Linked DNA regions of Homo sapiens: region 2 is linked to region 1. The links come from fine-mapping of genetic effects on gene expression. A gene starts in region 1. The other region holds a variant in brackets. All regions are shown on one strand. Distances are from middle to middle. Region 1 holds the start of MMP2-AS1 (MMP2 antisense RNA 1). Region 2 overlaps MMP2-AS1 (MMP2 antisense RNA 1).

Region 1 (5,000 bases):
GTTACACAGAGAGTGAGTGTTGACCCAGGCAATCTGCTCTGGTGCCCACACTCTTAGGCTGGTGCCATCCAGTGCCCCCGGAGCAAGCAAGATTTGGCTTCTGCACCCTCAATGACATCAGTATTTTCTCTGGGCATCCTCGGCCAAAGCACCGTCCCTCTGGGGCTCTCTGTCTCTATATGTTTATTTGCCTGGTAAATGCTTATTAAGCCCTGTGCTGAGTGCTGGATATATAGCAGCAATTAACCGCAGTCATTGCTCTTGTGGCGTTTGCATTCCAGTGGGGAGACAGGCAATACAGAGCAAACAGACTCATACACAAGGTAATTTTAGATGGCTAGGAGACCTGGGAGGGATGAGGTCAAGATTATCTGATGAGGGCAACTTGAGAATGGGTCGTCAGGGAGGGCCTCTTGGAGGCCCTTGTTAGGTGTGAGTCCTGAAGGAGGAAAATGAAGCAGTCACATGCAGAACAAGGGGAAGAGTGTTCCAGGTAGAGCAGATGGCAAGTGCAAAGGCCCTGGGGTGGGAACAAGCTTTTTTGTATTTGAAGAACAGAAGAAGGCCACTGTGGCTGGAGCAGAGCGACAGGCACAATGAGCTTTTGTGGGTTTGGTTGGCGAGCATGTGTCCCCATCTCCTTGGGAGTTGTCCCTCCTCCCCACTGAGGACAGTGTTTCTGGGAAGGTGGATTGGGTTACTGTCCTGCCCTCTTCAGAAGCCAAGACAGTTCTAAGCCTTCCTCCTACTACCCTGCCAGGGTGGGGCTGTAATCTAGGCTGAGCCAATGGGACACTCATATGGTTTTTTTTTTTTTTTTTTTTTTTTGAGACAGAGTTTCACTCTTGTCACCCAGGCTGGAGTGCAATGGCATGACCTCGACTCACTGCAACCTCTGCCTCCTGGGTTGAAGCAATTAGCTTGCCTCAGCCTCCTGAGTAGCTGGGATTACAGATGCCCACCACCAGGCTTGGCAAATTTTTATATTTTTGGTAGAGACAGGGTTTCACCATGTTGGCCAGGCTGGTCTCGAACTCCTGACCTCAGGTGATCCACCTGAAAGTGCTGGGATGACAGACGTGAGCCACCGTGCCCGGCCCACTCATATGACCTCGCGTGACATAGATACAGATGGAACAATGGCAGCCCAGGCACAGCAACTGCGGGACCCTGAGGCCTGGTGTTCCCACCTTGATGTCTGCTCCAGTTGCCTGGCTCCCTTATCCTATTCTAACAAATCCCCCTTCGCTTATGTTGCCAGAGTTTACTTCTGTGGCCTACACCCAAATGACCCTACTGATGCAGTGGAGGAATGAAGGCAGATGAAGTTGGGCCCAGATGCGCTAGGCCTGGTTGGCCAAGCCAAGGAATTGGGTTGTGTTCCAAGGAAAATGAGGTCCCTGGGGATTTTTCTGGCACTGCCCTTCTGAGATGCTGTGATTCTGTGTGGGTGGCTTCCCACCTATGGGCATGACCTTAATCCACCAGCCCCTGTCCAGAAGCTCTCCCCTGCCCACCCAGGCCCAGGTCCCCACCACACTCTACCGCTAATGCACAATTGCCCTCCGCAGGCACCCAGGCAAGGTGAGCTTGGGATTACTTGTGTATTTCCCATGCACCCCCAATAAGGTCTCTCTATGGCTCAGATAAACATCTCTAAGATTTTATCCCTACCATACACTCCACCAAATGAAGAGTAAAACGAGAAGGGAGGAGAAATAGACAATCAGAACGTTCATCTTATATGTTGTGGAGCCCAGGAAGGGGACTGAGGAGGGGTCAGGGAGCCAAGGTTCAGCCAGTGCCCCAAGTGCCTCCTGCCCTTGAATTCCGAAGCATCAGGAATCAGTCACGGTAACAACAGCCAGCTGGTGACCCCAATCCCTCTGCACAGCAACAAGCCTTGGCTCTTGTTTTTCTAAGAATCCAGTCAATCCTCTTTCCTGTAAGTTGCAACCCAGTCCTCCCCCCAGGCCGGGCTGAGGACACAGCTTGTCTTCCCGATGGTGTCACCTAGAACTCTGGTTCCCCTGCTCCCTTTCTCTTCAAATAGGAAAATTGGCACAGCTTGACTTTCTTCCACTGCCCTCCCAGCCACAGCTTAGACACCTACAAACTCCCACCGCAGGCTGGAGTGCCCTGGAGCCCTAACTGTGATACCCAGGTCAGTTTCCAAATCTGTACCTTTCTGCGTCTCCTGTTCCAACTCTCAGTGAACTCAGCTGGTTCCTGCCCTTCCTCCCCAATGACCAGCCCTGAGGAATTGACAGCTAGGCCACAGCCGCCTCTTCCTCCAGCTTGACCCTAATTGGAATAAGTACCTCTATCATGGAATCCCAGAGGGACTTACGGTGGGGTTGTAGGCAGTGAGCCATGATTGCACTACTGCTCTCCAGCCTGGGCAACAGAGTGAGACCTTCCAAGAGAGAAAGAGAGAAAGAGGGAAAGAGAGAGAGAGAGAACAGAAACAGGAAAAGAAAGAAAGAAAGAAAGAAAGAAAGAAAGAAAGAAAGAAAGAAAGAAAGAAACCATTTAACATTTAAAGTTTACATTTAACAAGGGCTTACAATATGCCAGGTGTTTTACAAGTATTCATTAATTGATTCAAAAGACATTTATTGAGGGGTGTAAAATGATTATCTCTATTTTATAGATGAAGAAACTGAGGCACACAGAGGTGAAATAGCTTGCACAAATGTTGCTTAGCTGGTAAGTAGATTAGTCATGGCAAAGCTAAGCTAGGCAGCCTGCCTTCTTTTTTTTTTTTTTTTTTTCCGTGATGGAGTCTTGCTTTGTCATCCAGTCTGGAGTGCAGTGGCGTGATCTCGGCTCACTGCAACCTCCACCTCCCAGGTTCAAGCGATTCTCCTGCCTCAGTCTCCCAAGTAACTGGGATTACAGGCATGCGCATTTTTTTTTTTTTTGTATTTTTAGCAGAGACAGGGTTTTGCCATGTTGGCCAGGCTGGTCTCAAACTCCTGACCTTGTGATCCACCCACCTCAGCCTCCCAAAGTGCTGGGATTACAGGTGTGAGCCACCATGCCCAGCCCTTATAGTCTTAATAACTGAAAGACAACAGCTTCTAGAAGGATTTTGTAGCTCTCAGCATTGCCTGCCATGTCTGCACTGGGCAAGGCCTTTCCCGGGCAATTTCCTTTCCCATGACAGAAAATGGGTGGTGACCACTCTATCCTGATGTTGTGTGGTCAGCTATCTGGCTGTGGGTGCAAAAAGGATGCACTGAGACCAGGTTTTGAAGGCATTTACAGACACATGGAGCTCTTGGAAGGCTCCTCAGCTTGTCCTCTGGAGTGGTTCTCAGAGGTGGATGATGCCGCAGAAGCAGAAATGCTGCAGGTTCTCGCTTGGAACCTTCCATCCAGTCCAGGCCTGGAGGAGCAGCCATCCAGGCAGGAATTGCAGGAAAGGCTACAATCCGTAGAGAGATCTGAAAATGAGTCTATCTTAGTGAGGCAGCAGTTGGGAGCAAGAAACAGAAGCCCCCTTAGACTAACTAAGGAGAAGGGAGTCGGAGTATGATTACAAGAACCCTAGGAGGCCAGCGGCGGGGCTTGAAAATCACGGGCTCAGGCTGCACTCAGCTCTTTCTCCCTGCGGTCTCTGTTCCCCAAGCTCCCCTCTCTGCAGCCACCCTGGGCAGCTCACTCTCCCTATCCCCTGACCCCTCACAGTGGCTCCGTGTGATCTCTCGGTCCACTCAGCTGTCCTTCCAGGTCCCTGTGGAGAATCCCTGAGATAGGAACATAGAAGGTGTGGGGGCCAGAGGGGGTGCAGAAGGTGAGGCACCATTTCATCCGTAACAGCCATGACCAGAAATGCTAGTAAATGCTTTTTGAGGCTTGTTTCATCGTGAGATTTTGCTTCAGAGGCCATTTGGGCGTTTTTCAGCCCTGGCCTCTTTGGCTGCCGGAAATAAGATCCCACTCTAGCAAAGGGAGGTCCTTTTTTCTTCTTTTACAATTCCACATCTTTCCAAGGGTGATATTCAGTAAGCCCACCTCAGATGGCATCTGAGAGTGTTAGATTTTGCTCATCTGATGCTGAGGATGGTGTCTGAAACACAGTCAGTGCTGAGTAGTTGTTGTGAGCAGGAGCGGTTGGCTTCCTGCATATCCCAATGAAATCAGCCCGGGGGCTGCAGGGTGCTTTTCGGAGGGGCCATTCCCCAGGAGAGTGAGGATTGTGGGGATCCCAGTCAGTCCTGTCTCTCTGAATTCAGCCAGCTGCTTTCCTGAGCTCCCAAACAAGGCCGTTTTTTCAGCATCTATTACATTGGTGCAAAAGTAAATGTGGTTTTACTCAATGGTAAAACCACAATTACCTTTGCACCAACCTAATAGGGTTCCAAGACCTTGGGTGTCACAGGCCCAGGCAAATGAAGCTGAGGGCCAGGGGTGAGAGGAGATGGCTGGATTGGAGACTGGTGCATGAACTGGGCATAAGCACTGCAGGAGGGAAGCTGGGTGGGGCCTGGGAGAGCTGCTTTCGGGGATTCTGAGGCTGCAAAGGAGTCTGTGGTTGGAAATAACCCCCAAGAAAAGGACAGACTGGTGTCAGGGTGTGAAATGTCCTTAGACCTCTCCTCTGCCCCACCCCAGTGACCTAGAACTCAGCTAGTTTTGATGCTTGTTGAACCAGAAATGCTGTTGACTGAGTCTCTGAACCCTCTATTTTTTTGTAGGGGGAGGGAGGGAGTCACATAGAGCTGCTTTTTTTTTTTTTTTTTTTTTTTGAGACTGAGTCTCGCTGTATTGCCAGGCTGGAGTGCAGTGGTGTAATCTCGGCTCACTGCAACCTCTGCTTCCCGGGTTCAAGTGATTCTCCTGCCTCAGACTCTTGAGTATCTGGGATTGCAGGTGTGTGCCACCACACCCAGCTAATTTTTGATGTTTTAGTAGAGACAGAGGTTCACCATGTTGGCCAGACTGATCTCAAACTCCTGGCCTCAAGTGATCCATCTGCCTTGGCCTCCCAAAGT
Region 2 (5,520 bases), 32 kb after region 1:
TAAACCCCCCATCTGGCACAGTGTTTAATATATAGAAGTTGTTGCTAAAAGTTGAAGAATGAATAAATAATATTTTTCATATCCTTTTTACAGCTTTAGATTCATGGCACAGAGAAACCCCAGAGCTTGTCCTAGATCACTCAGTGATCTTAGAGTAGATTCCTAAGACTTCTTCTCTAGCTTGGTCATTTCCAGAAGACTTCACACTCAGGTTTTCCAAAGCATGTATTTATCCCATGCAGTTACTTATAAATTAGAGCCCCCTTGGAAATTCAATGATTTCACAACTAAATCTAAATTTCATTTCTTTTTTTTTTTTTTTTTTGAGATGGAGTCTTGCTCTGTCGCCCAGGCTGAAGTGCAGTGGTGCAATCTCGGCTCACTGCAAGCTCTGCCTCCCGGGTTCATGCCATTCTCCTACCTCAGCCTCCTGAGTAGCTGGGACTATAGGCGCCCGCCACCACACCTGGCTAATTTTTTGTATTTTTGTGGAGATGGGGTTTCACCATGTTAACCAGGATGGTCTTGATCTCCTGACCTCGTGATCTGCCCGCCTTGGCCTCCCAAAGTGCTGGGATTACAGACGTGAGCCACAGCGCCTGGCTCAACTAAATCTAAATTTCTTATTTCTTTTGATAAGTCAGGAAATCTGGAGACATTGGACAGGCTCCTCTTCCCAATTAGCCACACTCCCCACCATGCCCCAAGACTTCCCCAATACCAGGGGATGTGTTGTTATGTAATACCATGCTTGCACTGTTGCTTTTTTCTTATATAGAGGACCACAGTTGTATGGCTGTGGCTTTAACAGACATGGAAGCAAAATGAACCTAGAATTAGACTCATGTTTGGAGAAGAATGAGAAGGAACACATTTTTTGGTGGAAGTGACAATTATTCCTATGTGCTATCTTTAAGGTACAAAGGACTCCTTACTTCACTCATTTTCACATGCACTCTCTTTGCTGTAACTCCTGTGACCAAGTCCCCAGGCATTGAGACTCATCCCATAGAGAAGCAGTAGGGCACAGGGGTTAGGAGCATGGCCCTTCTGGGTTTTCTTTGGCTAAGTTAGCTTGGGTAAAGTTAGCAAGTTTTGTTGGGCTGGGGTTAAGCTCCTTAACTTCTCTTTCCTTCAGTGTCCTCATCTTCAAAAGGGGGTGATGATGATAATAACACCTATCTTGTAGGTGATTGTGAAGATGGAATGAAACAAGAAATGTAAAGAGTGAATGAAGCCGGGCACAGTGGCTCATGCCTATAATCCCAGCACTTTGGGAGGCTGAGGCAGGTGGATCACTTGAGGTCAGGAGTTTGAGACCAGCCTGGCCAACATGGCGAAACCCCATCTCTATTAAAAATACAAAAATTAGCCAGGCGTGGTGGTGCGCACCTGTAATCCCAGCTATTGGAAGGCTGAGACATGAGCATCACTTGAACCTGGGAGGCGGAGGTTGCATTGAGCCGAGATCTGGCCACTGTTCTCCAGCATGGGAGACAGAACGAGACTTCATTTAAAAAAAAAAAAGTGAATGATATTACCTGACACCTGGTAAGGAGGCAGAGGACAGGAGTATTTTTGTCATTATGGTGAGTGACAACATACCAACTCACTCATTAGTTAATTTATTTGGTAAGTGAAGATCGACTTAGTGACTAAGAAGGTTGATGCCTTTGAAAAGTGCCAAATCAAAAAATTTGAAGGTTTCTTGGTCCATGTCAGTGGTTCTCAATCCTGGAAGTGGATGGGAATAATCTTTGTTGCTCTCCCCAGATACTAGTCTGGGGACCCACCAAAGAGCAATTACACCAGACCCTCCAGGGACAGGATTTGTGGCCCCCAGAATGATGACAACTATGCCAGGTTACGGTCAGGATGGGAAACTCGTCTCAAGTCAGGTCAAGGTCATGCGCAGTCCTGAGACCAGGTGCCTCCTTACATTACACACCCTCAGTGCCTCATTTACCTGCCCTGGTCCCTGTCTTGCCTCAAACCACTAAAACAGAAACTCCATGAGGGCAGAGACTTTTTCCCTATTTTTCTTTCACTACTATCCCAGTGCCTGGAACAGCAGTGCACATATAATATGCTCTTGATAAATACTTATTGAGAGAATGAATAAATGGATACATGAATAGGCCCATCTTCCAAAGGTTCGGATTGCAGTCACCTCTTTGCTAGAGACTGCTGGATTTGCTCTACATAAACCAGAAGAGTGGAGTCCTAGACTTCAGATGCTCAGTGTTTCCAGAAGAGACCTTCAAGGTCAGCTGGGACAATTTCTTTTTTTTTTTTTCCAAACCATCTCTCATCATCATGATATTTTCCTTGTCTGCATCCCACTTGAGCTGTTATTTCCTTAATGGTGGCTTTACATCAATTCGTGCTTACTTAGAAACATCTGTCTGACAAAGAAACCCTAAAAAGATCAGTTCTGCCAAGGAAAAACTATCACTTGCCATACATAGAAAGGCAACTGTGAAATTAAGTACAAAGGAAATAAATCAAGTTATGAAATGGAGTTGGATGCTGATGCCTGCTGAGGATGTGAGCCTGGGCCTTCCCCTCTTATCATTATGAAGAGAGGGTTGAAAACATTGCAGAGGTGTTAAAGAGATGTTAGCATTGGATTGAGACTTTCTCTTAGAGGGAGTCAGAGGCTAGAAAGAGTCCAGAAGTGATACCTTTCTCTCTCTGAGTTAGTACTGTTTAATACCATGTCTTTGCATGTCACCCAAACCCATCCATGTGCTGCCCAACCATCAGTGGTATTCATCCCACTGGAGAAATCCATAGTTAGTCCCAGCTCCTTATTTTGTAAGACTTAGGTCCAAAGAGGCCCAAGTTCATATTCATTTATTCATTCATGCATTTGTTTGACATATATCAAACACCTCCTATATGCCTGGCACTGTGAACTAGACAGGCTAAGTCCCAGCTATTTTGGAGCTACCAACCCAGGGTCAGAGGAGGGGCTATACCTTTGGTCCCAGACCCCTAGTGCAGTGCTCCTTCTCTGCCCCTTCTCAGAAGGTGTTTTTGTAATCCCCATCTACACCCTACCCTCATGGGTGACTTGGGCACTTAGTGTTGCATTAACATCGTTTCCTTTTAATAAAGCAGCTACATTTTCACCCCATCCCGGGCTCCATGTTCCTGCTGCACACACATCAAGAATGCTGCTAATTTCAGCGTCTGCCTTCCAGACCCAGACGTCAAAACAACTACCTTTCATCTCAGGTTTGTAACACAGAAAACCTTCAATATTGGGAACAGATAACCTCGAAGGTGGGTTCATATCTCTCAGCAC[G/A]ATTGCTGTAACTTAACTCTGCTGCACCCGATCAAGGCTTTCTCTCTGCCTCATAGGTATTTTAATACAAATGTTCCTTTCATTTGGCTGATTGAAGGTCTCCAACCTGCAATAAATGAAACATCTGATCCCCTTGAATCCAAATAACTTTTTCTTTGATTTTCTTTTACTTCTATTTCTTCGTCCTTTGTTCTACAGCCCGAGTCAAATTTCCCTTTAGAAATTGAAAGAATGTGTGTGGGTTTTTCCTGCTTTTTTTTTTTTTTTAACCAAGCTCTAGTGCAACCGCTGGTTCATGGACTAGAATATTAAGATCCAATTCAATGGCAGACTGTCTCCAGCAATGTTGTATTTTTATTTTTTTTTGCCGTCATCCCCCCCACCCACTTGTGAGCAATGGTTGTACAAATTAGCCTCTGTGTACTAGTCACCGAAGCTGGCTTCCCAATTAACCCCAGGCTTGAGAGAAAATAAGACTAAAGATTCTTCCCCTCCTGAAAGAACTAAGTTATCCATGCACAAAAGCCTACATGTTGGCACCTGGCTATGGAGTTGGGCATTTAATTGCCTTTGTAATGACTCAGTCCATCTGCATGGTATTGGGTCCCCAGTTTCAGGTAATGGGCCAGAGGGGTCTTATTAGTCTCTGGAATGACCAGGCCATGTGTATTCATCACTTCGAAAGGCAAGCAGGGTCTGTGAGAAGCTGGTGAAGCTCTTTGTGTGTTCACATCTCTGATTGTGCCCTGTGTCCACACTTAGCCAGGACACCTACCCACTTAGTGGTCTTGGCTTTGTTTCTAGGGTGAGGGCTTGAGCTGTGGGTAACAGTGCTGATTATTACATGCTAGTAAGATTGTCTCCCTCTTTGAAGTGGTAGAAAGGTTTGTCCCTTCAGGGTGATTGGGTGAATATCAGAAAGCAACCACAGGAACATTTTGTTGTACTTTGCTAAGGTCTAAATATTTGTCTCCTCCCACCAAAAATTAGTGGTTGAAACCTCATCCCCAGTGTGATGAAATGAGGAGGTGAGGCCTTTGGGAGGTGACGAGGTCTTGAAGGCAGAGCCTTTATGGATGGGATTAGTACCCATATAAAAGAGACCTCAGGGAGCTTGTTCACCCCTTCTGTCATGTTGAGTACTCAGCAAGAAGATGCCATCTATGAGGAATGGACCCCCACCAGACACCCAATCTGCCAGTAACTTGATCTTGGACTTCCCAGCCTCCAGAACTGTGAGGAATCAGTTTCTGCTATTTATGAGTTACCCAGTCTATGGCATTTTGCTATGGCAGCCCAAATAGACTGAGACATACTCCTTAACCTTTGACCCACTTCTGTTTAGGCCCAGCCAGCCTTCCTGAGCCTGTGCATAGTCTTCCTGGCTCAAGGAACTCTCTCTACCGAGGTGTGATCTCCTAACTCCTGGCACTCATTTACCTATCCATGGTTGGTAGTCAGCCTCCAAGATGCCTGCAGTCATCCCTGCCTCCTGGGATTCATATCCTCCTCCACATTGTGCCAGGATTGGGCTCTGTGGCCAAAAAGAAAACAGCAGATGAGAGGACGTGTCTCTTCTCAGAAGGGTTAGAAAAGACTGTGGCTTCCATTTTAGATGACTTTCTCTCTCTCTCTCTCTCTCTCTCTCTCTCTCTCTCTCTCTCTCCTCTTTTCCTTCTTCTCTTCCTTGGATCTCTTGCTCTGAGGAAAGCAAACTACTATGTTGTGAGCAGCCCAATGGAGAGGCCCACAAGACAACGAACTGAAGCCTCCAGCAACAACCCTGTGAGGTCAGTTTGGAAGTGGATTTTCTAGCCCCAATTGAGCTTAAGATGACTTCAGCTTCAGCAGACAGCTTGACTGCAGCCTTTCTAGAGAGCAAGCACCACCCAGCTCTGCTGCTTCTAGACCCCTGACCTCAGAAATTGCACGAGATAACATGTTTGCTGTTTCAGGCTGCCAAATTTAGGGGTAAGCTGTTATGTAGCAATAAATACCAGCACACCATGTGAGCTCGTCTCTCGAGGGACTCTCTGAGGCTCCTGATGTTCCTGGTTGGCTCCCTCAATCTATGTGCTTGTTGTCCCTTAATATGTATTTTCAGTTCTTCCTTCATAAGAAACACCCTTAGCTTTTAAGTGGATCCTTGGCTGCCTGGAATAAACACTACATTGCCCCAGGTTTTTTGGCAGTTAAATGTGATCATGTGA

The links.
Region 2: its variant is fine-mapped to the expression of MMP2-AS1 in liver (GTEx, PIP above 0.99).

Annotation. Positions count from the first base shown.
Region 1 is chr16:55,459,339-55,464,338 of GRCh38, reverse strand. It overlaps MMP2-AS1 (MMP2 antisense RNA 1), which reads left to right and starts at 2,042. Exons shown (of 7, transcript NR_147198.1): 1 at 2,042-2,164.
Region 2 is chr16:55,427,081-55,432,600 of GRCh38, reverse strand. MMP2-AS1 (MMP2 antisense RNA 1) reads left to right here. Exons shown (of 7, transcript NR_147198.1): 5 at 3,121-3,240; 6 at 5,017-5,100. Among named protein-coding and RNA genes, the nearest start is that of MMP2-AS1, 32 kb to the left of the region's middle. The variant G/A (reference allele first, on the strand shown) is at 3,311.